3 separate regions of the Homo sapiens genome follow, and all the other regions are linked to region 2. The links come from fine-mapping of genetic effects on gene expression. A gene starts in region 2. Each other region holds a variant in brackets. All regions are shown on one strand. Distances are between the middles of the regions.

Region 1 (11,173 bases), 75 kb after region 2:
TGAAGTATTATCTGTAAATAATTATTTTCCAATTTTATTTATTTTTACTACACTGATATTAGCACTTCCAGTGCAACTAATAATGATCAAAGTCTGCTTCATTGTCTTGTTCCCCATTTTAATGGCAATGTTAGGTATAATGTTTGCTTTTATTAAGTATAATGTTTGCTTTTGTTGGTAGAGTTTTACGATTTTACATCAGAAGTACCTGTTCAACTTAATTGCCACGTTTAAGCATCAATTAAAATATTTTCATTGAACTCATGAATTTCTTTTTATATTAGTGATTATTTTAAGTAAGTTTGCTTTGTGAATATTTTATTTAAATGTTTTTGGTTTTTGTTTTTGAGACAAGGTCTTGCTATATTGCCCAGGCTAGAGTGCAGTGGCTGTTCATGGGCACAGTCATAGCCCACTATAGCCTTGAACTACTGGGCTCAAAGGATCCTCCTGCCTCAACTTCATGAGTAGCTGGGACTACAAGTGCACACCAACACACCCAATGAAAAGTTTACTTTTAATGAGATTGGTTTCAAACTTATGCCAGTTTTTAAAATGAATTTTAAACCTTTCCTTCTTTTTCTAGTTTATTTGAATATTGGGGATAATAAATAGTACCAGTGCTAAAGTGTGAAGTTTAAATTGTACAATATATGTAAAAGCACTTAGATTAATGCCTGGAACATAATAAGCACTTTAAGAACTAGTTGCTATTATAGCTGATGCTGTTTTTTATTTCTTTTTTCTGCAACAGTTTATTTAGAATGAGAAATAACTGTTCCTTGAGACTAAATCACTACTAAATTATCTAGGCCTGGAGCCTTTTGCTTAAGCAGTTTTCCATTTTTTTTTCTCCTAAATTTCTTCCTGGCTGATTATCTATTCAGGCTTTGACCTTTTTTTTCCTGAGTCAAATATCACATTTTTTTTAATTTTGGCTTTTGTTCTCTAAGATACAATTAACTTTTTTCTGTCAAAAACACTTCTTAGATTCAACAGTTGTATAGGAGCCTATTCTTTGTGCTTCCTACTTTCTCAGGGTCCTTTTTGCATGTTTATTTAACTTAAATTAATAAACAGTTATCTGATTTTTTTTTCCCCTTCTTAAACCATGTAAGCATTTAAGGCTGTGAATTTGCTTCTGATTTCAACTTTCAGCAAAATTTGGGTAAGTACTTTTAATATTCATACATAACTATTTACAATAAATGATACCAGGCTCTTTTTTGCCTAAAATTTTTATTATTGTGGTCAGGATAAGTTGCAGGTTTTATAAATGTTGCACGGGGGCTTAGAAATAGGTAATGTTGGCTGGGCATGGTGGCTCACACCTGTAATCCCAGCACTTTGGGAGGCCAAGGCAGGCAGATCACTTGAGCCCAGGAGTTCGAGACCAACCTGGGCAACATGATGAAACCCCCATCTCTACCAAAAATTAGCCAGGCATGGTAGTATGCACCTGTGGTCCTAGCTACCAGGGAGGCTGAGGTGGGTGTATCACTTGAGCCCAGGAAGTCAAGGCTGCAGTGAGATGAGACCATGCCACTGCACTACAACCTGGGCAACAGAGCAAGACCCTATCTCAAAAAAAAAGTTAAAAAAGAAATAGGTATTGTTTAGAAAGGTAAAGTTTGATATGTATTCAGTCTTATACTGTTTGAATCCTGTCTTTGCTTTAATACTTTTTTCACAAGTGTTTGTTTAATCCATGAAACATTATTATCTTGGTCATAGCTTTGGCTTTTTTTCTGCCAAAAAAAAAAGTACAAAGTAGACCATCATAAAAAGTAGTTCTTTCCCCATTTTAACAGTTTCTGCCTTCTCATAATTTATGATACATGCAACCCTTTTTACTTTTTTTTTTTTTTTTTTTTTTTTTTTTTTTTTTTGAGACAGAGTTTCGCTCTTGTTGCCCAGGCTAGAGTGCAGTGGCATGATCTCAGCTCACCACAACCTCCACCTCCCTGGCCCAAACGATTCTCCTGCCTCAGCCTCCCACGTAGCTGGGATTACGGGTATGCACGACCACGCCCGGCTAATTTTGTACTTTTAGTAGAGACGGGTTTTCTCCATGTTGGCCAAGCTGGTCTTCGAACTCCTGACCTCAGATGATCCACCTGCCTCGGCCTCCAAAAATGCTGGGATTACAGGCGTGAGCCACCTCGCCCAGCCTCTTTTTACTTTATTATTGGATTTTAAAGCTGTTGTCTTATAGTAACTTAAGATATGGAACTGTAACCATAACAGGTCCATTGCCCATTGTGCATGACAAGTCAGTATGTAAGACCCTGGGCTGCAGCAAAGAAAGATGTTTAATTGCAGGGCCACCGAATGAGGAGACTGGAGGAAACTTCAAATCTCTCCCCGAGGGTTTAGGAAGTGGGCCAAGGTGCAGCCTGTTTAGTGCCTAGTTATAACTATATTTCTGTCCAGGACCCAGCATGCAATTCTTGTAAGTCCCGTGAGGGCAGTCTCAGAACTTGTCCTACTAGCGTTTACCTTTATTTAGCAGATAAAGATAACATGTTACCGATATTTCACCATGTAAAGGCCAAGGGAAACCAGGAGGTAGGTGTAAAACACAAGAAAAAAAAGGAAAATACAAGGAAAAAAGGAAACTCAACATATTTTAGAATACTTCACTGAAGGTAAGTAGTGCATCCAAAGGTTGGTGATCTGGAAAACATTTGAAAAGTGCTCTGAAAATTCTGGGGAAAAAATGGAAAGGAAGAGAAAAAATAGAGAACCAGAAAGTAAATGGTATTTCTTTTCTTTGTTTAAGAGACAAGGTCTCCCTCTGTCCCCCAGTACAGTGGCAGGATCATTTCACTGTAACCTTGAAGTTCCCCTTGGCCCTCTGAAGGTTTGCTGGAAAATAAAGCTGTTTGCAAAAGGCAGATTAATTGGAGAAAAGGAATATACATTTATTTAATGTTGTATACATGGGGGCCTTCAGACAAAGACCTGACCCCGCCCCCAGTGGGGTGTAGAAACTTTTTTTTTTTTTTTTTTTTGAGACAGTCTCACTCTGTTGCCCAGGCTAGAGTCCAATGGTGTGATCTTGGCTCACTGCAACCTCTGCCTCCTGGGTTGAAGCGATTCTTCCACCTCAGCCTCCTGAGTTGCAGGGACTACAGGCATGCGCCACCACGACCGGCTAATTTTTGTATTTATAGTAGAGACAGGGTTTCACCATGTTGGCCAGACTGCTGTCGAACTTCTTACCTCAGGTGAGCTGCCCATCTGGGCCTCTCAAAAGTGCCAGGATTACAGACATGAGCCCCTGTGTCCGGCCAGGTGTAGGAACTTTATACCATCTTCAGGTTACAGAAGTAATGTGAGCTCCCAGCATGGCCAAAAACATGTTATTTTGGTAAATCAGGTTTTAGTGGCAACACAGGTTACGGGTAGGGAAAGGAGACCTGGCTAGGAAAGGTGGTCTTGTTAGAAGCTTTCTGAGAGAATGGATGTTAAATGTTTAAGACCTTTAAAGGTGTCAGACAGGCTCTCATTTAACCTTTTCTAGATTCCAGACAAGGGAAGTCCTGGCTGCATTAATGGAGATTCTCCATAGACGCAGATTTCTTTCAAAAAAGACAGCTTTGCAGCACCACTTCTGTTTGCTGGCCCTCTGATAGCCATCTCAAAATATGTCAAATAAATATAATTTGAGGTAAAACATTTTTATTTCCTTCAACCACTACCTTTCCTTCTTCCCCAGCCAGTCCTTAAGCAGTCATTTAAAAAATTAGAAACTTTCACCTAACTGAATTCTTAATTCTTCATTCCATGGGCTTGCCTAAACCTTTGTCATTTTTGGAGGAAACATCAGAGTACTTTATTTTCTAAACTTTTCTGTGTTTGAGACACACCTTTTAGTATCTTATTTTGTTTCATTAAAAACAGTTAGATGTCCTGTCACTTGTTTTCTTGGATTGAATGTAATAGAAATAAGAACTGTGGCTACCTATTTTTCTAACTAGATGTTAGAGGAATTTAATACATTTTCTCCAGAATGTCTTAGTATGATTTTCTGCTAATTAATTTTGCCAATAAAATATGCTCTTTAGGGCTGGGCGTGGTGGCTCATGCCTATAATCCCAGCACTTCGGGAGGCCGAGGCAGAAGGATCACCTGAAGTCAGGAGTTCGAGACCAGCCAGGCCTACATGGCAAAACTCTTCTCTCTACTGAAAATAAAATAGCTAGGTTTGGTGGCGCATGCCTGTATACTCAGGAGGCTGAGGCACGAGAATCGCTTGAACCCAGGGAGCGGAGGTTGCAGTGAGCCAAGATCGTGCCACTGCATTCCAGCCTGAGCTACGAAGCAAAACTCTGTCTCAAAAAAGAAAAAAAAAAAATGCTCTTTAAAATCTTCCCCCTTAGGACTTAAAAATCTGAGTTTTTCTATTATCTTTATGTTTTCTGTTATATTAAATTATTGCTTCAGAGTATCTTTTTTTTTTTTTTTAGGAAACACCATTTAAGCTGTGCATGGTAGCATGTGCCTATAGTCCTAACTACTCAGGAGGCTGAGGGAGGCAGATCACTTGAGAACCCAGGAGTTCAAGGTTACAGTGAGCTATGGTCATGCCACTGCACTCCAGCCCAGGCGACAGAGCAATACCTTATCTCTTTAAAACAAATTAAAAAACCTACTTACTTGATTCTCTGTTTCTTCTCTCTTTTCCATTTTTTCCCAGAATTGTCAGAGCACTTCTCAGATGTTTTCCAGATCAATGACCTTTGGATGCAATGTTAGTTTCTGCTTATCTTCAATGAAGTATTCTCATGTTTTGGGTTTCCTTTTCTCCTATATCTTATCCAGCTCCTGGTTCAGTTAGAAGTTTTTGTAAGTCGGGGCAGATAATTATTGAAAGGCATTTAACTAAAGCATAGTAAGTTAAGAACGTGGGCTCTGGAGCTTGACTAACTTGGAGTTGAATCCTAGCCAGCTTTTTGCCCTTGGAATTTATTTAGCTACTCTATGCCTCAATTTCCTTGTTTATAAAGGAGGGATAATAATGGTACCCACTCTTAGAAGTTTTTGTGACAATTAAATGAGTTTATACATATAAAGCACATAACAAGCCTCAAAAGTTGGTGATGATTACAGATGTTTTTGAAAATACTCTACTCTTCCTCTGAATCTGAAGAGCAATCTAATCTATTTCTCCCATATATTGTCATTTTGCTCCTTCAAAAGATCTACAATACATTATTTGCCAACAGATAATGTGTACACAATGACCTTTACTGCCCCCTCCTCTTCCTGAGGGGGAGTTTTCCCTCTTCAGAGCTGCAATTGAGGGTAGTGTGCATAGCCCCTGCCTGTAGCGTTTTAATTAATTAATTTTTTCCCAGATAAAATGCAATGCGAGATACTTCTGTTACAGTCTGTCCTGCTTAAGAACAGGCATTGTCGTGTATTGGAAGTGGTGATCTGTTCCCTTTTTTATATATCCATTCAGCATATCAGTTTCTACCTCCCTTCCCACTCTCTATGCTGCTATAGTAATTCAGAGCCCAAACTCCAGGGTTTTCTGCTTGACCTCCCCCAACCCTGAATGTTGAGGTTATAAGAAATTGCCCCCACTCTAGACCCTGAGGACATGGGCTTCTGTCTTGTTTCTAGTACTGCTGCACACACTGTGGTTTGAGTGATTATATGAAGCACTGCTAGTTTGTCCAGAATAGCCAACTCTTACTGTAAAGAGAAGTAATTTAATTTACCGTAATTTACTAAATGTAAATTACCTATAAAGAGCATTCACTTGACCTTTAACAATCCTCAAAAATATAAATGTGTTCTCACAAATGGAAACTTCTAGCTACTTATGTAAGTCACTAATATTACACATTGGTATTTCTACCATATTTCGATAAGTATAGACTCAGAATGCAAAAATGTATCAAACTTTTCAAGGTTACCAAGAAAAAAGCAGAAGAAGAAATTTATTTTTAATTTCAAAATGTTTTGGGATTTCATCATTTTGATTTTTAAAAGTTAACATAGAAAATAATAAAAAATGAAACAGCTTATCTGAATATAAGCTGACCCACAGTAGTCACACTGATTACAGCAGGCCTTCTGGTCACATAGGGTTGTCTCCTTAAATAGCAGAGGTTGTCTACAGCTTCTGAATTAGCATGGCAGAAGCACCTCCTCCTCCATTGCAAATACTGGCAAGACCGTATTCTCCTTGCTTCAAGGCATGAGTCAAATGACCAACAATCCTGGCTCCAGACATCCTAAAATTAAGAAAGCATTTACTTCTTTAATGAAGTACAGAATTTATGACTAACCAAAATGTTTCTATTCCAATTTAACTTCTTGAAAACCTTACTAGCCACTACTACTTGCTGAATTAACTACTACTATTCTAAAACTAAAACTTGGAGGACTTGTTTCAGGAAGGGTCACAGATCTTAGATCATTTTTTGAGATGGAGTCTCGCTCTGTCGCCAGGCTGGAGTGCAATGGCAGAATCTCAGCTCACTGCAACATCCACCTCCTGGGTTCAAGCGATTCTCCTGCCTCAGCCTCCCAAGTAGCTGGGACTACAGGCGTGCACCACCACACCCAGCTAATTTTCGTATTTTTAGTAGAGACAGGGTTTCGCCATGTTGGCCAGGATGGCCTCTATCTCTTGACCTCGTGATCTGTTCACCTCAGCCTCCCAAAGTGCTAGGATTACAGGCGTGAGCCACCGTGCCTGGCCAGGTCACAGATCTTTTAAAAGTACAGAACAGTATAATGGATAGAAGAGTAGAGTATAATGGAAGAGGGATGTGGGATAAACTACATATTGGGTGACTGACAGGTGCACTGAAATCAGCCCCCACCACTATAAATTCATCCATGTAACCAAAACCCACGGTACCCTAAAGCTAATGAAATAAATAGGAAGGAGAAAAAGGGGGTAAAAAGTCTAAATGTACACTTTTTCTTCTTCAGCATAAAACATTATTAGGTTTCAAATAACAGATGTGACAGGTCTCTGTTCAGTATTGGATACCATCTATCAGAAATGGTTTTTGCCTTATGAAAGATGGGTAGGAAGGAAAACTTAAGAGCAATGGGAATTATGAAGCAGTTTTAAGTTTAGCTAGAAACACAAAGGCAGCTCTTAACCTAGATATAGTTATTATTTTTACCTACCCAATTGGATGTCCCAGAGAAACAGCTCCTCCATTGATATTCACTTTTTGGGGATCAATCTCCAACATTTTAATGTTTGCTAGTACAACCAGACTAAAGGCTTCATTTACTTCCCACATTGCAATATCTTCTTTTTTCAATCCCACATCTTTAAGAACCTTAAATTTTTTAAAAGACAGATGATGTTCAAATAATTAGCAATCACAACTTACTGTCATCATTTCCTTGAAATACTACAGTTTGACATAAGTTATTTAAATATGGAAGTTCTTGGTTTCAGATGGAAGGATCTCTATTTTCAGATTTTTTTTTTTTCCAACAGTCTTGCTCTGTCTCCCAGGCTGGAGTGCAATGGCGCCATCTTGGCTCACTATAACCTCTGCCTCCCAGGTTCAAGCAGTTCTCCTGTCTCAGCCTCCTGAGTAGCTGGGATTACAGATGCCCACCACCATGCCCAGCTAATTTTTTGTATTTTTAGTAGAGACAGGGTTTCACCATGTTTGGCCAGGCTGGTCTCAAACTCCTGACCTCAGGTGATCTGCTCACTTCAGCCTCCCAAAGTGCTGGGATTACAGGCGT[G/T]AGCCACCGCACCCGGCCCATTTTCAGATTTTTAGTTGCTCATCTTATTCCATTATATCAAAGAATTTTGTTTGCATTATGTCTGTTTTGACATAGGGGACAGAAAATTTGATTTTCTTTCCACAGATATTTGAAAAGGTACATTTTCTATTTAGGGGCACATAATGCTTTATATATTCTTAAGCTCTGCTTTACTGATTGTGTGTTGCTTGGTTCTATATTCTTTTTTGTTGTTGTTGATTTATTTTGAGACAGGGTCTTGCTCTGTCACCCAGGCTGAAGTGGAATGGCACAGTCATGGCCCACTGCAGCCTTGACCTCCCAGGCTCAAGCGATCTGCCTCCCAAAGCGCTGGGATTACAGGCGAGCGCCACTGCACCCAGCCATTTCTATGTTCTTGACTGTTAATGAAAGAGGTATATTAGTTTCTAATATTAGTGATATTAATGCATCCCCTGCAGTTTCTGCTTTATAAATGTTACTGTAGGGTTATCTGGGCCACAGATATTTACATCTGTTGCAGTTTCATTGTAAGTCATTTATTTAAAATCTTACACTATATGATCTGTTTTGTTTTGGTAGTTCCTCAGCTATGCAGGAAGGTGTATTTGTGCCAGTGATTATCCCTATGCTAATACTTTTTAAAACATTACTAGTGAGTGCCCTAAAACATTACTAGTGAGTGCCCTTTTTCTTTACAGAAGAAATTTGATTGTTGTGAGCGATAATAAAATTAACGTGGAACTCTTCCTCCATCTTCCTCTCTTCTACTAGTGGACTAAGGGTAGCTTTCTAGCCTATACAGCTCAAACAGCTTCCACTGTTCCAACAACACAAAACAAAATATGGTACCCATATATAGCTATGTCTGTAGCTCTCAGAAGTTATTCTACCTTCAGAATCCAGAATTGTTTATTACCCTTGCTTTCCAACGTGATGTTACTCACTTTCAGAAGCTGCGTGTTCCTTTCATTTTCTGAGATCTGCTAGCTCTGAGCAGATCATCACTCCACTGGCCCCTTGTTTCTGATCTTCTCTATTCTTGTTTCCTACTGATTCTGCAGTTTTTTTTTTCATTGCGGGGGTTGGGGGCAGTGGGGAGAATCTGATTTTACTAAAATTCTGCAATTTTTTTTATCTGGGTGCTTACAGAAGTTTACTGTCAGGGTGAGGCCCTCTCAAAAGGAAATATTTACTTAAGATTTCTAAGAACCCTGAACCCCTAAAACTTTCTTTTCCTGTGACTGCTTAGCAATTTCCCACTGAGACTTGGATAGCCCTTACTGACAATTTGGAATATGTAGGTTTTCTGTCTCTAGTTTTACTATTTACTCTGAAGACCTGCTGCCAGCTGTTCCCTTTCAGAATGGAGTCCTCTCCTGGGGAGTGACTAGTTGCTTTCCATTCTAGATCTGGAACCATCAGCCAGCATTCCCTCCGCTTTGTGGTTACCACACCAGGTGTGTGAGTTCTGTATGATACTTACAAGTAATTCAGATGTGTAGTTTTACCTGTTCTACTGAAGATGTAGTTTGTGAGCTGTTCTTTATTTTTTTTTTTTTGTTTGTTATCCTTGTTGCTCTTACTCTTTTCAGGAGAAGACATGGGAAGATTTGAAACCAAGCTATCTCTCTGCTTTGGCAGATAACATTTAAAATCTTAAAAACTGCAACCTTGGTATAAGCAAACCAGAAGCTAGCATAATGGAGTATCGCCCCTCACTTTGTTCTCACCATAGATGCAGCATATACAGGAGCAATTGGAAAATCAATAGGTTCTACAGCAGCGTCAGCAAATGCTGTTTAAAAAAAGGGGGGGGGGGGTTGTTAAAATCTTTTTTTTTTTACTGTATAGAATATGCACAAGCCAAGTTTAGCCCATTAAATGCACATTTCCTAGCCCCTTTAATATATGTAAATATATGTCTTCCTTTTCTAGGATTCTACACTTTATAAAATTACTCCAGTAATCTAAGACACTGATTTTCATTGGGGGGGAGTTTGGGGGTATTTGCCTCTAGGAACATTGGCACCACCTAGAGATGTTTTTGGTTGTCAGAATAGTTCAGATGCCACTGGGTAAAGACTAAGGATTCTGCTAAACATCTACAATGCATAGAACAGTCCCTACAACAAAGAATTACTTAGTGCAAAAGTCAATAGTGCTGAGGTTAAGAAACCATGATCTAAGCTAAGAAAAAAAATGAAGTTATAAGGCTTTTTATAAAGTAACAAAATAGCATCTGTTAAGTCCTTAGGAAGAAGGCAAGACAGATTTCTGCAGCTAAAAATCGGCTTAAGGACATTGAGAACTTGCCCAAGGCCACAGAGTTAATAAATACTAAAACACCACACATGTAAATTTTGTATTTCTGGACTCCTAATCCCATATTCTTTTTTTCCTACATAGCTGCCTCTGTAGGAAAATGCATGTACTTTATTTTCTGCTATTTATCATACAGGACAGGAAGTTTTTTAAAGCTTAATTTAAAAAAAAAGAAAAAGAGACAAGATCTTGCTCTGTTGCCTAGGCTGGCTGCAGCTTTGACATCTTGGGCTCAAATGATCGTCAGCCTTAGCCTCCTACGTAACTGGGACTACAGGCATGCTACCACACCTGGCTAATTTTTTTCTTTCAGAGGTGGGGTCTCACTGTGTTGCCCAGGCTGGTCTCAAACTCCAGGCCTCAAGCAATCCTGCCTTATCCTCCCAAAATGCTGGGGTTACAGGCGTGAACCACTGTGCCCAGCCCTTAAAGCTTAATCTTATATAAAGTATAATGAAAATATTAAAGGAGCTTCTATCTCAATTGAAATATGTATCAATTAAATTCTGCCACAAGTACAACCTAGGTAGTAATACTTAATATTGGAGTTGGCTATATCTAACAAGTAAACTCAATTTCATGAAGAGCTTATAGATGTTTAGAAACCTTATTTTTTTTTAAGACAGGGTCTCGCTCTGTCACCCAGGCTGGAGTGCAGTGGTACAATCTCAGTTCACTGCAACCTCAAACTCCTGGGCTCAAGGCATCCTCCCACCTCAGCTTCCCGAGTAGATGGTAGTACAGGCACATGCCACCATGCTCAGCTAATTTTTTAACTTTTTGTAGAGACGAAGTCTCACTATATTGCCCAGGCTGATTTCGAACTCCGGGGCTCAAGCAATCCTCCCACCTCAACCTCCGAAAGTGCTGGGATTACAGGTGTGAGCCACCTCGCCTGGCCTTACCTACTATTCTTGCCAGTGGTGTAACATTGAGCCTCTTCGCTGCATCTGCCGTCATGAGAACCAGAGCAGCTGCTCCATCATTCAGTGTACTGGCATTGGCAGCTGTTACTGTGCCTGAAAGCAAAAATGAGGTTGAAGTCAAAACATTCCTTCACAATAAATGTATTTGGTTCAATTCAACAAATACCTATTGCCTGGGCTGC
Region 2 (5,000 bases):
ATTTTATTAGCAGATGGCTCTGATTCTCTTCTCCTTTTATATTCACTGGTGGTTCTTCTGACTTCCCCCATCCCCCAACACTATTACAACTTCCGCTTTACTCTGCTATAGATTACAGATTGTTATTTGAGTTCTTTTCATTTGATTATATACTTCCTGTGGACAAGTATTATCATTTTTGTTTTTCCATTCCTTATGGTTTTATCTAGGAATCTTCTTACTTCTTCAATCTCAGTTTAAAGCCCTCTTGAGTCAATAAGGAAAATGAAACTGGTAATCTAACCAATGAAAATACCTTAGCAATATCCAAAGAACCATAAGGTTTGGCACCTTTATTCCTAAATATACTAAAGATTTGACACTTCCCGGAAGAGGCAGCCCTAAACTTGACTTTTTTTTCCCCATGGTGTGACTTCCTTGAACTTGTTTTTCTTACCTTCAGCTTAATGATTACTTTGAAGAAAACAAAACAGTTCAGTATTATCTACATAAACAGAAGATGCTCATTCACTGATAGATGCAAACAATATTTACTACTTATAGCTAGACAAATAATGAACTAAACAGATACAAATCCTACCCTCATGAAGTCATATCTGGGCAGCAGGGTGACAATAAACAAGTAAATTGATAAACCAATGCATAATTCCAAATTGTGATGTATGCCTCTGAGGAAACAAAAACACAGTAATAGAAAATAACTGTAGAGAGAATCATTTTAGATAAACTGTCAGGGAACATATATCTCAGAGGAGTTTATAATAAAGCCAAGATCTGAACTAACTGGTGCCAATCAAAAAAAGGGCTAGAGGACCAACACTTCAGGGAAGGAGACTAGCATAGCCAAAGGGTTCTACAATGTTAAAGAACACAGTATGTTGGCGGAACTGAAAGAAGGCAGAGGAACTATTAGGTAGTCAACTAGAGTATGAGTGTCACCATATAAAGATGAACTTCATTTATACATTAATCCAGAATATCTAGGTTCCACTCAAGGTTCAAACGAAAAGATAAGGATTTCCTACTTCCTACGAGCCTCTGAATTGACGAATTCAGTGTTCCTTTTTAGATCTCAACCAAGTTGACCCCTTTGCACAACTTGACAATGACGCTTATATCCCATCTTCCTAGAAATAACTCTGCCCTTGGCATGCCATTCTTTTCTAGTGCTAAGGAGTGTGGCCTCTGTAGTCAGATTGTATTAGTTCAAATCCTGGTTCAGCCACTTACAAACTGTATAATCTAGAGCAAGTTCACTAATCTCTTCAAACCTCAGTTTCTCAATGATAAAAGGAAAAACAATACTAGTACCTACCTCTATGAGTCCCTTTAAGGACCCATATACATGCTTACAGTGCCTGAAACACAGCAAATGTTAGCAATGATCATATTAACTTCCGTTATGACTGTTTCGAAAGTCTCCTGATATCTCTTCTTCCGCTCATACCTCAAAAACAGCTTTGTTTTCTTGGTCTCATCCATTCCTATGACTTCAGCAGCTGAAAACCCACAAAATATATTTCATTCAATGCCAGGCCTCACGCTGGAGCTTCAGGGTCCTTCTACACTTTGTGCCTTTACACGCATTTTTCCTTCCATCTGGAAGGCTTCTACCATCTGCCAAGGTAACACTGCGAGGTCTCACCACAAACTGAATTGATAGTCTCAGGCTGAGTTTGCAGAGAACCAAAGTCACTCCTCTACCATCAGAGTACTCCCCTATCACCACATACATTATCATCCACTGTAGTTGTCTTATCTGTACCTGGTAAATACAGCAGCTAACGCTCACGAGTGCTCACCACAGGTCAAGATTATCTCACTTATCTTCACAAGACAGTAGAGAGCGGCCACACGACTGACAGAATTCCAATTCCAGCCGTATGATTCCAGAGCCCAAGCTCTTAACCGCGAGGCTGAAGTTGAAATATCAATAAATGCTCGCTGACTAAAAGTACTAAATACGAGAGAGAGATCAAAAGATGACTAGTCAAGTCGCGTAGTTAAATCTGAACCCTAAGGTGACACAAAAAGAGGATGCGCAGGAGGCAGGGTTCAATTCAGGGCGTTTAAAAGGAGGAGGTTATTGGCCAAGTCCGCTAAGCACCCGGAGAGAGGCCAGGAAAGATGGAGTGAGGAGAGGGAGGAGTCAAGGGCCACTCTGGAGGGGTGCATGAGATTGGCGGTCTGGGGAGAGGACAGACTGGGTCGCACACGACTGAATTTCCCAGCGCAGAAGCCGCTGCGTTGCCTCCGCGCCCCTACCACTGCACTCGGAAGGTCAAAGTAGTATCAACCGCGGCGGTGGCTGCAGCGCAGATCCCGACTCCTCTCGCCTCCTCCCGCGGCCACGGCTTCTTTTCTCCGTTAGCCACGCAGCTACCTACTCCCGCTTCCGGTTCAAACCCTGCGTGACTGCCCAGCGCCCACTTCTGGAGGAAGAAGCAACGCCAAGCAGCCGCAGAGCACGGTATGCCCATGCGCATCCAGTATCACGCGGTCTCCGCGCTCAAAACACTGCCCCAAAACATTCGGCCCGTCGGAGCAAACGCGCCTGCGCCATGTCCACCAATGGCCAGCGACTTAGCGTTTGCGGCTCGCCCTTCGGCTCGGGCTCCGGGGCTCTCACCCACCCTCTTCGCCCTCGTCGTCCTCCCCGCCCTCCTCATCCCCGCCCCTCCAAGTCTGAGGACGGAAGTGACGACAGTTCCGAAGGCGAACGGAGGCGGGTTTCATTTCGGCGCCTTTCTTTCTCTGGCGGAAGCGATTGGCTGCCGTGAAGCGAAAGAGGCGGGACAAATTGCCGCGAGTTCAGTGCCGCCACTGGAACCAGGAGATGCGGCGCAGGAGCTGTCGCTGTGTTTGCTTTAACCTGAGTCTTGTTCCTTATTGTGGTTCCTGCTGTGGTTTTGATCATGTTGTTACCCTCGGACGTAGCCCGGCTTGTATTGGGTAAGCGCGGACGCGGGATGGAGGGTTATTGGACCCGGCTATGCTGGACAGAAGGACCTTTGAGGCCAAAGGTTTTCCCTTGGTAGGGAAGCTTTGGGGTTTTGCCTCCCAGCTTACGAGTTGAGACTGGCGGTGATTCTTCGTCATTCGGAGGTTCTGGGCAGTTTAAGCCTCTTTGTATGTAGATGCTCCTCTCTTCAGAGGCTGCGTGGCGAGGGGAAGCCCGAGGGGAAGCTCGGGGTGGAACACCTGGGGCGGATTCGGAAGGAAAGTCAGGCCTCCACACTTAATTAGGACCCCTGAAAGAGCATTTGTCTGCATGACGGACGGATTGCGTGTGCTTCAACCTTGGGCGCAATTTCCTTGGTTCAGTGTTGGGACCAAAATAGGGCAAATAGGGAGTTCCCCGGCCCCCCATCTTTGTAGAGAGACCTTCCTGGCGCCCTTCTAATAACCCGCCCTTATAACTACGAATTTGGGAGTAGGGGTGATCTTCCTTCTCCATCCTCCACGCAATACGTCGTCCAGTGTAGAGGTGTGAAATGCCAGTTGCATATTTTAAAACAGCAATTCCTGTTCCTTTGATCAGCGAAAAATTTCAGAGGGTTAATTGCCTTAAATTAGTTGAACGTTTTCTAGCCCTAGTTTTACCTTCATTTGAGGAGGGATTGTTTGTGGGTCACTTGTCTGTCAGGGTGTATTGTCTGTGTGAGAGACGGGTTTTGTTGTTGTTTGTCCCCTGAAAGAATAAAGAGGATTGTACTACAGGGGACGAGAGCCAGGTAAAGCTCAAAACCCGAGCCAGTAATTTACGGACGTCGTATGCGACGTCCCTAAAAGTAAATGGCAAGCATCTGTGATGAAACCTCCCATAGTATTCACAGCCATTACTACTATTATTTTATTGTTCGGAAAACCCATTTGTCTTGTGCCTCTTTTAAATGCCCAGCGCTGTCCACAAAAATGTTATTTGCGCAGGGCTCTTGATAAGCACATTTTGCAGGAAACGTTAAACGGAAATGGTTCCACCATCCATTTTTGAAGAAACTTAATGACAAGTTTAATGTTTTGTTAATGTCTGATTAATCTTTTGCTTAAGAATTCTGAGTTTTGGCAGTTTGGTAATCTAGTTGAGTTTCGGTAACTATAGTCTTAAACATGGTTTCTCAGCCTCAGTACTGTTAACATTTTGGGCCTCATAATTCTTTATTGTGGGGAGCTATCCTGTGCTCAAACATTGTAGGATGTTTAGCAGCATTCCTGGCTTCTATTCACTAGATTACAGTAGGACACCCGTTCCCCACCCTACCCTTACCCAGTTGTGATCAGTGAAAATGTCTCTAGATATTGCTAGTATGTCCCCTGGAGGGCAGAATCACCCCTAGTTAAGAAAGCCCTAAGAAAGCAGTATCATTTTCTAATTGAAATAATTCACATCGATGTGTGAGTATTCTTTCTCCACAAACCAGCTACTCTGCTGACTTCCTGCTTTTCATTTAATGGACAAAAAACGCCAGCCATGGTTTTCTTATCTTAAAAATCTTTGTCATTCACATTCCATTTTCACTGCCACCAATCCCGCAATGTGCCTGCCATTACTTCTCTTTTGGACTTCTGTCATGGCTTCCCAGACAGTTGTCCTCGCAATTCATTTTATTTACTGTTGTTACAAATCTCCCTGAAGCTTTCACACTATACCTTTTAGTCTGAAAGTTGAGATAATTCTATTCTTACTAAAAATTTCAGATGGGCAGGAGTATACAATACAAAAAAGCCTCCCCATGCCTAATGCTCTTACTTTTGTCGTTTATCATTTTACATCTTAAATAGATACATATCGTGTATATCTTTCTCATATGAGGTTTATTATTTACTCATGATTCTTTTCCTATCAGTACCCCCTCGCCATCTTCAGCTCCTCTTGTTATTGGTCCCTTCATAATGTTTTTTTTCTAGCAAATCTTTGGGTGCCTAGTATGTTCCAAACACTGTGCCAATTGCTGAACATAGAGAAGTTAAGTTTTCTCCCCTTAGTGTTCAGATAATTA
Region 3 (11,173 bases), 220 kb before region 2:
TTTTCTGCTCTGTTTTTTCCCCATCTTTGTGGTTTTATCTACTTTTGGTGTTTGATTATGGTGACATACAGATGGGTTTTTGGTGTGGATGTCCTTTCTATTTGTTAGTTTTCCTTCTGACAGACAGGACCCTCAGCTACAGGTCCGTTGGAGTTTGCTAGAGGTCCACTCCAGACCCTGTTTGCCTGGGTATCAGCAGTGGTGGCTGCAGAACAGCGGTGGCTATAGAACAGTGGATATTGGTGACCTGCAAATGCTGCTGCCTGATCGTTCCTCTGGAAGTTTTGTCTCAGAGGAGTACCCTGCTGCGTGAGTTGTCAGTCTGCCCTTACTGGGGGGTGCCTCCCAGTTAGGCTGCTCGGGGGTCAGGGACCCACTTGAGGAGGCAGTCTGCCCATTCTCAGATCTCCAGCTGCATGCTGGGAGAACCACTACTCTCTTCAAAGCTGTCAGACAGGGACATGTAAGTCTGCAGAGGTTACTGCTGTCTTTTTGTTTGTCTGTGCCCTTCCCCCAGAGGTGGAGCCTACAGAGGCAGGCAGGCCTCCTTGAGCTGTGGTGGGCTCCATCCAGTTGGAGCTTCCCGGCTGCTTTGTTTACCAAATCAAGCCTGGGCAATGGCAGGCACCCCTCCTCCAGCCTTGCTGCTGCCTTGCAGTTTGATCTCAGACTGCTGTGCTAGCAATCAGCAAGACTCCGTGGGCGTAGGACCCTCCGAGCCATGTGTGGGATATAATCTCCTGGTGTGCCGTTTTTTAAGCCCGTTGCAAAAGTGCAGTATTAGGATGGGAAGTGACTGGATTTTCCAGGTGCCATCTGTCACCCCTTTCTTTGACTAGGAAAGGGAACTCCCTGACCCCTTGCGCTGCCGGAGTGAGGCAATGCCTTGCCCTGCTTCAGCTCGTGCACGGTGCGCTGTACCCAGTGTCCTACACCCACTGCCTGGCACTCCGTAGTGAGATGAACCTGGTACCTCAGATGGAAATTCAGAAATCACCTGTCTTCTGCGTCGCTCATGCTGGGAGCTGTAGACTGGAGCTGTTCCTATTCGGCCATCTTGGCTCCACCCTGTGGATAAGCTTTTTGATGTGCTGCTGGATGCGGTTTGCCAGTATTTTATGGAGGGTTTTTGCATCGATGTTCATCAGGGATATTGGTCTAAAATTCTCTTTTTTTGTTGTGTCTCTGCCAGGCTTTGGTGTCAGGATGATGTTGGCCTCATAAAATGAGTTAGGGAGGATTCCTTCTTTTTCTATTGATTGGGATAGTTTCAGAAGGAATGGTAGCAGCTCCTCTTTGTACCTCTGGTAGAATTCGGCTGTGAATCCGTCTGGTCCTGGACTTTTTTTTGGTTGGTAGGCTATTAATTATTGCCTCAATTTCAGGGCCTGTTATTGGTCTATTCAGGGATTCATCTTCATGGTTTAGTCTTGGGAGGGTGTATGTATCCAGGAATTTATCCATTTCTTCTAGATTTTCTAGTTTATTTGCGTAGAGGTGTTTATAGTATTCTCTGATGGTAGTTTGTATTTCTGTGGGATCGGTGGTGATATCCCCTTTATCATTTTTTATTGCGTCTATTTGATTCTTCTCTCTTTTCTTCTTTATTAGTCTTGCTAGTGGTCTATCAATTTTGTTGATCTTTTTAAAAACCCAGCTCCTGGATTCATTGATTTTTTGAAGGGTTTTTTGTGTCTCTATTTCTTTCAGTTCCGCTCTGAACTTAGTTATTTCTTGCCTTCTGCTAGCTTTTGAATGTTTTTGCTCTTGCTTCTCTAGTTCTTTTAATTGTGATGTTAGGGTGTCAATTGTAGATCTTTCCTGCTTTCTCTGGTGGTAATTTAGTGCTATAAATTTCTGTCTACACACTACTTTAAATGTGTCCCAGAGATTCTGGTATGTTGTGTCTTTGTTCTGGTTGGTTTCAAAGAACATCTTTATTTCTGCCTTCATTTTGTTATGTACCCAGTAGTCATTCAGGAGCAGGTTGTTCAGTTTCCATGTAGTTGAGCGGTTTTGAGTGAGTTTCTTAATCCTGAGTTCTAGTTTGATGTCACTGTGGTCTGAGAGACAGTTTGTTATAATTTCTGTTCTTTTACATTTGCTGAGGAGTGCTTCCAACTATGGGGTCAATTTTGGGATAGGTGTCGTGTGATGCTGTAAAAATGTATATTCTCTTGATTTGGGGTGGAGAGTTCTGTAGATGTCTATGAGGTCTGCTTGGTGCAGAGCTGAGTTCAATTCCTGGATATCCTTGTTAACCTTCTGTTTCGTTGATCTGTCTCATGTTGACAGTGGGGTGTTAAAGTCTCCTATTATTATTGTGTGGGAGTCTAAGTCTCTTTGTAGGTCACTCAGGACTTGCTTTATGAATCTGGGTGCTCCTGTATTGGGTGCATATATATTTAGGATAGTTAGCTCTTCTTGTTGAATTGATCCCTTTATAATTACGTAATGGCCTTCTTTGTCTCTTTTGATCTTTGTTGGTGTAAGTCTGTTTTATCAGAGGCTAGGATTGTAGCCCCTGCTTTTTTTGTTTGTTTGTTTTCCATTTGCTTGTTAGATCTTCCTCCATCCCTTTATTTTGAGCCTATGTGTGTCTCTGCACATGAGATGGGTCTCCTGAATACAGCACAGTGATGGGTCTTGAATCTTTATCCAATTTGCCAGTCTGTGTCTTTTAGTTGGAGCATTTAGCCCATTTACATTTAAAGTTAATATTATTATATGTGAATTTGATCCTGTCATTATGATGTTAGCTGGTTATTTTTCTCGTTAGTTGATGTTGTTTCTTCCTAGCATCGATGGTCTTTACAATGTTTTTGCAGTGGCTGGTACTGGTTGTTCCTTTCCATGTTTAGTGCTTCCTTCAGGAGCTGTTGTAAGGGAGGCCTGGTGATGACAAAATCTCTCAGCATTTGCTTGTCTGTAAAGTATTTTATTTTTCCTTCACTGATGAAGCTTAGTTTGGCTGGATATGAAATTCTGGGTTGAAAATTCTTTTCTTTAAGAATGTTGAATATTGGCCCCCACTGTCTTCTGGCTTGTAGAGTTTCTGCTGAGAGATCCGCTGTTATTCTGATGGGTTTCCCTTTGTGGGTAACCCGACCTTTCTCTCTGGCTGCCCTTAATATTTTTTCCTTCATTTCAACTTTGGTGAATCTGACAATTATGTGTCTTGGGATTGCTCTTCTCGAGGAGTATCTTTGTGGCATTCTCTGTATTTCCTGAATTTGAATTTTGGCCTGTTTTGCTAGGTTGGGGAAGTTCTCCTGGATAGTATTCTTAAGAGTGTTTTCCAACTTGATTCCATTCTCCACATCACTTTCAGGTACACCAATCAGACGTAAGTTTCATCTTTTCACATAGTCCCACATTTCTTAGAGGCTTTGTTCGTTCTTTTTCCTCTTTTTTCTCTAAACTTCTCTTCTGGCTTCCTTTCATTCTTTTGATCTTCAATCACTGATACCCTTTCTTCCACTTGATTGAATCGGGTACTGAAGCTTGTGCATGCATCACCTAGTTCTCTTGCCATGGTTTTCAGCTCCATCAAGTGATTTAAGGTCTTCTCTACACTGTTTCTTCTAGTTAACCATTCATCTCATCTTTTTTCAAGGTTTTTAGCTTCTTTGTGATAGGTTTGAACATCCTCCTTTAGCTCGGAGAAGTTTGTTATTACTGATCATCTGAAGCCTTCTTCTCTCAACTCATCAAAGTCATTTTCCATCCAGCTTTGTTCTGTTGCTGGCAAGGAGCTGCATTCCTTTGGAGGAGAAGAGGCATTCTGATATTTAGAATTTTCAGCTTTTCTGCTCTGGTTTCTCCCCGTCTTTGTGGTTTTCTCTACCTTTGGTCTTTGATGATGGTGACATACAGATGGGATTTTGGTGTGGGTGTCCTTTCTGTTTGTTAGTTTTCCTTCTAATAGGACCCGCAGCTGCAGGTCTGTTGGACTTTGCTGGAAGTCCACTCCAGACCTTGTTTGCCTGGGTATCACCAGCGGAGGCTGCAGAACAGCAAATATTGCAGAATGGCAATTGTTGCTGCCTAATCCTTCCTCCGGAAGCTTTGTCTCAGAGGGGCACCTGGCCGTATGAGGTGTCAGTCTGCCCCTACTGGGGGGTGCCTCCCAGTTAGGCTACTTGGGGGTCAGGGACCCACTTGAGGAGGCAGTCTGCCCATTCTCTCATCTCAAACTCCATGCTGGGATAACAACTACTCTTTTCAAAGCTGTCAGACAGGGACGTTTAAGTCTGCAGAAGTTTCTGCTGCCTTTTGTTCAGCTATGCCCTGCCCCCAGAGGTGGAGTCTACAGAGGCAGGCAGGCCTCCTTGAACTGTTGGTGGGCTCCACCCAATTCGAGCTTCCCGGCTGCTTTGTTTACCTACTCAAGCCTCAGCAATGGCAGACGCCTCTCCTCCAGCCT[C/T]GCTGCCGCCTTGCAGTTCAATCTCAGACTGCTGTGTTAGTAGTGAGCAAGGTTCCGTGGGTGTGGGACCCTCTGAGCCAGGTGCAGGATATAATCTCCTGGTGTGCTGTTTGCTAAGACTGTTGGAAAAGCACAGTATTAGGGTGGGAGTGTCCTAATTTTCCAGGTACCATCTGTCACGGCTTCCCTTGGCTAGGAAAGGGAATTCCCCAACCCCTTGCACTTCCTGGGTGAGGCAGTGCGTTGCCCTGCTTTGGCTCATGCTCCTTGGGCTGCACCCACTGTCTGACAAGCCCCAGTGAGATGAACCCGGTACCTCACTTGGAAATGCCGAAATCACCTGTCTTCTGCGTTGCTCATGCTGGGAGCTGTAGACTGGGGCTCTTCCTATTTGGCCATCTTGGAACCTCCTCTTCCTATCGGTCATATTTTCCCTTTCATCTAGGCTATTTTAGTAACTTGCTTTACCATTAAAACCACTAAAATAGGACATGACATTCTGGAACCTCTTAGTCTAGGTCATAAAAAGCATTGCAGTGTCCAAGTCTGTGTCCTGAAATGTTCATTCTGAGTGAGAACAGCCACCATGTAGGAAGGATAACTGCCCTGAAACTGCCATGCTGAAGTGAATCCCAGGCTAGCCTCATGGAGAGGTTGCCTCCAGAGATTGATGATTGACTATCCTGTTTTAACAGATATTACAGCCCACTTAAGCAGATACGTAAGTGAAAAGGCCATTTTTTATATTCCATGCCCAATAAGTGTAATAAGGAAAAGAACCAAGAGACCTAGCTGACAGCTAGAATGCAGGTCCTTGATATTGGGCCCCACTTGAGCCATCCCAGCCATTTCTACTGTTCAAGTCATCCCCGCTGAAGCCTCAGTCATTGTGGAGATGAGACAAGACTTCCCTACTATTCCCTACCAGAATTCGTAACCCATAATTATGAGCATAATAAAATGGTGGTTGTTTTTACACTACTAAGTTTTGAGGTACTTTACTACACAGTAATAGATGATTAGAACAGCTATATATTCTTTTAGAGGGTTAAGCTAGAAAGGGCAAAGTTACAATATTTGCCCTTGATTAGTTAGTCTCTACCTTAAATTAGTACTTTTACCCTTTTCAGAACAATGTAAGAAGCTCATAACATGTTAACTCACTTTAGCCTCTTCACCTTTGTCCTGTTATTTCCAGATATTTCACTTACACTTTTGTTTTAAGTACCAGGAGACATTATTATTCTTGTTTTAAACAGCCAGTGTTCACTTTTTTATTGTAGTAAAATGTTCATAACATAAAATTTACCAGTTTAACCGTTTTTAGGTGTATAACTCAATTACATTAAGTATATTCATAATGTTGTGCACCTATCACCAGTATCCATTTCCACAGCTTTTTCATCATCCCAAACAAAACCTCATGTACCCATTAAACAAAAACCTCCTAACCACCAGACCCCAGTTATCTCTATTCTACTTTGTGTCTCTGTGAATTTTCCTATTTTAGGTACCTCATTTAAGTGGATTTATCTTTTTGTATCTGGCTTATTTTACTCAACATAACATTTTCAATGTTCATCCAATTTATAGCATGTATCAGAATTTCATTCCTTTCTAAGGATGGATAATATTCCATTATATATCTATATGCTACATTGTATTTATCCATTCATCTGTTAATGGACATTTGGGCTATTTCCACTTTTTGGTTACTGTGAATAATGCTGCTAATAAATTGATGTAAAAATATCTGTTTGAGCCATTGCTTTCTTTTTGGTATATGTCTAGAAGTGGAATTGCTGGATTATGTAATTCAATGTTTGACTTTGTGAGGAACTGCCAAACTTTACCACAGTGGCTGTACCATTTTACATTCCCACCAGCAATGCACAAGGTTTCCAGTTGCTCTATATCCTTGCCAATACTTGCTATTTTCAAGTTTTTTGGTAATAGCCATTCTAATGGATGTTAAGTCGTATCTCATTGCAGTTTTGATTTACATTTCCCTTATGACTAGTGATATTGATCATCTTTTTTGTCCTTATTGACCACTTGTAAGTCTTCTTTGGAGAAATATATATTCAAGACCTTTGCCCATTTTTACATTGAGTTGTTTTGCATTTGTTGTTGAGATGTAGCAGTTCTTTATGTTTCGAAGATCTGCTTTGCAAATATTTTCTCCCATTTTGTGGATTGCCCTTTTACTCTCTTGTTAGTGTCCTTTGATGCACAAAAAGTTTTAATTTTTTTTTTTTAGATGGAGTCTCGCTCTGTCACCCAGGCTGGAGTGCAGTGGCACAGTCTCGGTTCACTGCAACCTCTGCCTCCTGCGTTCAAATGATTCTTCTGCCTCAGCCTCCTGAGTAGCTGGGACTACAGGCGACCACCACCATGCCTGGCTAATTTTTGTATTTTTAGTAGAAATGGGGTTTCACTGTGTTGGCCAGACTGGTCTCAAACTCCTGACCTCAAGTGATCTGCCCGCCTTGGCCTCCCAAAGTGCTAGGATTACAAGCGTGAGCCACTGCACCCAGTCTGATTTTTATGTAGTCCAGTTTATCTTTTTGTTCATTTTGTTTCTTGTGCTTTTGGTGTTATATCCAAGAAATCATTACCAAATCCAACGTCATGAAGCTTTTCCCCCATATTTTCTTCTAGGAGTTTTATGGCTTTAACTCTTATATTTGGATCTTTGATTTTTTTTTTTTCCAGACGAAATCTTGCTTTGTTGCCCAAGCTGGAGTGCAGTGACTCAATCTCAGCTCAGTGCCAACTCCGCCTCCCAGGTTTGAGGGATTCTTTTGCCTCAGCCTACCGAGTAGCTGGGACTACAGGAGTGCGCCACATGCCCAGCTAATTTTTGTATTTTTAGTGGAGACAGGGTTTCACCACGTTGGCCAGGCTGGTCTCAAACTCCTGACCTCAAGTGATCTGCCCGTCTCGGCCTCCCAAATTGCTGAAATTATAGGCGTGAGCCACTGCATGCCACCTAAATCTTTGATCCATTTTGATTTAATGTTGCATATGGTGTAAATTAAGGACCCAATTTCATTATTTTTCATGTGGGTATATAATTGTCACGGATACATTTGTTGAAAATACTGTCCTCTTCATTGAATGGTTTTGAAACCCTTGTCAAAAATGAGTTGACGACATATATATGAGTCTATTTGGAGGCTCTCTATGCTATTCCATTGGCCTATATATCTGTCCTTAGGCCAGTACCAAACTGTTTTGATTATTGTAGCTTTAGTAAGTTTTGAAATCCGGAAGTATGGCTCTCCAACTCACACTTTTTCACTTATTTTATTCTTTTTCAAGACTGTTTGGCTATTCAGGGTCCCTTGTGTTCCACATAGATTTTAGGATGGGCTTTTCTATTTTTTCAAAAAGTGCCGTTGGGATTTTGGATAGTGATTACATTGAATCTGTACATTGCTTTGGGTAATACTGTCATCTTAACAATACTAAGGCTTCCAATCTGTGAATGTGGGGTGTTTTTCCGTTTAATTTCCTTATCCTTTTTTTTTTTTTTTTTTTTTTTTTTTTTTTAAGACTGAGTCTCACCTGTCACCAGGCTGGAGTGCAGTGGTGCTATCTCAGCTCACTGCAACCTCTGCCTCTGCCTCCCGGATTCAAGCGATTCTCCTGCCTCAGCCTCCCGAGTAGCTGGGACTACAGACATGCGCCACCATGCCCAGCTAATTTTTGTATGCTTAGTAGAGACGGGGTTTCACCATGTTGGCCAGGATGGTTTCGATCTCTTGACCTCATGATCTGCCCGCCTCAGCCTCCCAAAGTGCTGGGATTACAGGCGTGAGCCACTGCACCCAGCCTTCAGTATCTATTTTTATCTATCCAGATACAAACCATTTCCAGAGCCCTTCATTTGTTCCTGCAGCCTTATTTGCTTCCTTATGGTATTAATTTTCTGCCAACTCAAGAATTCTCTGTAGTTTGATTTTGTTTTTGAGAGGCAAGTTCTTGCTCTGTCACCCAGGCTGGAGTGCAGTGGTGCAATCATAGCTCACTGTAGCCTCGAATTCCTGAGCTCAAGTGATCCTCCTACCTCAAGCTACTGAGTAGCTAGGACTTCAGGTGTGCATCACCACACCTAGATAATTTTTAAAATTTTGTCCACCCCCCCCCTTTTTTTTTTTTTTTTGTCGTAATGGGTTCTTAATATGTTGACCTGGTGGGTCTCAAACTCCTAGCCTCAAGTGATCTTCCCATGTCAGCCTCCCAAAGTTCTGGAACTATAGATGTGTCTGTAGTATTTCTTATAAGATTTCTTAGATGCCAGACCTCCTGTGAAAAATCCCTTCAGCTTTTGTTTGTCTAAAAGCATATTTATTTCCTTTTTATTTTCAAAGAATATTATCACATTTCATAGAAATCTGGACTGGCATGTTATTGGGATTTTTCCCCCCTCAGCACTCAGATGGCATTCCATTGTATTCTGTCTCCCATAGTTTCTATTAAAAAGTCAATAAATAGTGTTACCGTTTCTACTCTGAAAGTATTGTGGTATTTATTTTCTGGCTGCTTTTAAATTGCGTCTTTGTCTTTGGTTTTTAGCAGTTTGATTATGATGTGTCTATATGTCATTTTCTTTATATTTGTCCTTGTTTGGTCAAGTTGACAATAGAATAACCCAGCTGAGTCTACCCCTTGTCACCTTGGCATCCATACAAATCCCTTTTAACCATATTTAACTTCCAAATAGAATCAAAACCATGCTTCCACCTAACATTCCTCATACAGGCCAAAGCATATTCACAACCTTCCCAAAAGTACCTTTATCCCTTTTTGGATCATTTTTATTCCTCTTTTTGCTGAACCATACTCTACCTATGATATCTTATACTTTAAATACCAGGTGGAAGGTTAAGTACTTGTATTAATTTCCTAATGCTACTGTAAAAATTGCCACAAAGTTAGTGCTTTAAACCACAAAAATGTATTATCTTACGGTTCTGGAGGTCAGAAGTCTGAAATGGGCTTCACTGGGCTAAAATCAAGCGTCAGCAGAGCTTGTGTTCTCTCTGGAGGCTCTAGGGAAGAATTTCCTGCCTTTTCCTCCTTCTAGAAGTTGCCCGCATCCTTGGCTCATTATGCCCTTCTATTTTCTTTCTTTTTTTTTTTTTTCCTCCTAAAATCCTTTCCTGGAGCAACCCCTGTCTATTTTCAAAACCAGCAATGACCTGTCAAGTCTTTCCCTCATCACACCACTCTTGCTGACTCTTCTATGTCCTTTATACGGACCCTTGCAATTACCTTGGGCCAATGAGGATAATTTCCCTGTGTCAAAGTCAGCTGATTAGCAACCTTAGTTCCAAATGCAATCCTAATTCACCCTCTCCATGTAACAGCATATTTACACATTACAGATTACAGGGATTAGGTGTGAACATCTTTTGTTAGGGAGCGTTATGCTGCCTACCACACTATGATTAACACACTTTACATTTGTTTTAGGGGAATGGGAGCAGGAGAAAACAAAAGAAAAAAATGGCTAATATTTATATGCAGATATATAGAAGAAATACTCATAGATACTACCTGTTTCTGCAGCTAATTATGGGAATCATAGCTGGTATTTTTAACTTTTTTCTTCCACTAGCTATTTCATATTCTCTCTTTTTTTCAGCAAGCACTTCAGCTGGTTGTGGTTCCTTGCTCAGGGGTGGAGGAAGGGAATGACGCAAAACTTCATTCCTAAAGGGGCTAGACCTTTAACAATTCTGCCTGTTTGGGGTTGTTATAATTTTCCATTAACTTTTCTTACAGAATATGGTATTACTAAAAAACACCCCAAAAGTTCTCCTGAATTCTAGACATCTTCCTTAATTTCTACTGGTAGTAATAGCTCATTTTCTCCTAAGAATCAGGATTAATTACCCCAGCCAGTATGGTAATTGTCTTTTTTTTTTCATGTTGGTTTATTGGTATGAGGAGAACAAGATGGTCAGGTGGCAGTATCAGTTTCCATTTTAACATTGGTATGTACTTTGGTGGAAACGTTCTTCCTGTGGAAACTAAGACCATTATATCTGCAGAGCACAAAGGTACAAAGAAGGACAGGAAGCAAAATTTTCACTAGTGGATCATTAAAGATAATATTGAGAGGGAGCCACTTCCATTTCTACCACTTAATTCCCAAATTCATGGATGCTGGCTGTGTGAGAAATAGCACGATATTCATTCAGAGCATCTACTACAACATAGAGGATGTCGTCCTAGTCTGAAAAGTGTTATCACTGAATTCTAAATTGCAACTGAGTCTTTAACATGCCATTCCACTATTCTATCAGGCCAGTTACTTCAGGGTGATTGGGAACAAGGTAAGATTTATGAATTTCACAAGCATGGGCCCATTGGTGTGCTACACTTGTTGTGAACCAAGTTCTCTAATCAGGAGCAATGCTGTGTGGAATACCATGACAGAGAATAAAGCATTTTCAAAGTACACAGAAGGTTTTTGTGGAAACACTGTGCACATGGAAGGATCAGATGTCAATTCCAGTGAGAAAAGAAGTGTTGCCCTTTCCATAATGGAAGTGTTCCAAATAATCAATTTTTGTCTCAAGGAAGCTAGGTAGTTCCCCCAAGGAATTATGCCATACCAGGGGCTCAGTGTTAGTCTCTGTGTTGGCAAGTTGGACTCTCTCAGTGGTGGCAGTAGCCAGATCTAGTGGGTAGAAATTCATGTTGCTGAGCCTATGAATAACCTCCATTCCTTTT

What was found. PIP is the estimated chance that this variant, and not a neighbour inherited with it, causes the effect. A credible set is the group of variants that fine-mapping cannot tell apart.
Region 1: its variant is the best candidate, but not a certain one, in a credible set for the expression of NPAT in whole blood (INTERVAL, PIP 0.76).
Region 3: its variant is the best candidate, but not a certain one, in a credible set for the expression of NPAT in blood mononuclear cells (TOPMed, PIP 0.54).

What each region holds. Positions count from the first base shown.
Region 1 is chr11:108,142,348-108,153,520 of GRCh38, reverse strand. ACAT1 (acetyl-CoA acetyltransferase 1) reads right to left here. Exons shown (of 12, transcript NM_000019.4): 9 at 10,971-11,084; 10 at 9,474-9,538; 11 at 7,162-7,319; 12 at 5,918-6,251. The coding sequence ends at 6,131. Among named protein-coding and RNA genes, the nearest start is that of ACAT1, 26 kb to the right of the region's middle. RefSeq lists a silencer at 2,584-2,752. The variant G/T (reference allele first, on the strand shown) is at 7,741.
Region 2 is chr11:108,220,452-108,225,451 of GRCh38, reverse strand. It overlaps NPAT (nuclear protein, coactivator of histone transcription), which reads left to right and starts at 2,814. Exons shown (of 18, transcript NM_002519.3): 1 at 2,814-2,952. The coding sequence starts at 2,916. It overlaps ATM (ATM serine/threonine kinase), which reads right to left and starts at 2,385. Exons shown (of 63, transcript NM_000051.4): 1 at 2,266-2,385. RefSeq lists enhancers at 1-2, 1,499-1,548, 1,899-1,978, 2,289-2,448, 2,859-2,918.
Region 3 is chr11:108,434,516-108,445,688 of GRCh38, reverse strand. The region is part of intron 2 of C11orf65 (chromosome 11 open reading frame 65); the gene reads left to right. Among named protein-coding and RNA genes, the nearest start is that of C11orf65, 27 kb to the left of the region's middle. RefSeq lists a cis regulatory region at 6,760 and an enhancer at 6,688-6,832. The variant C/T (reference allele first, on the strand shown) is at 4,427.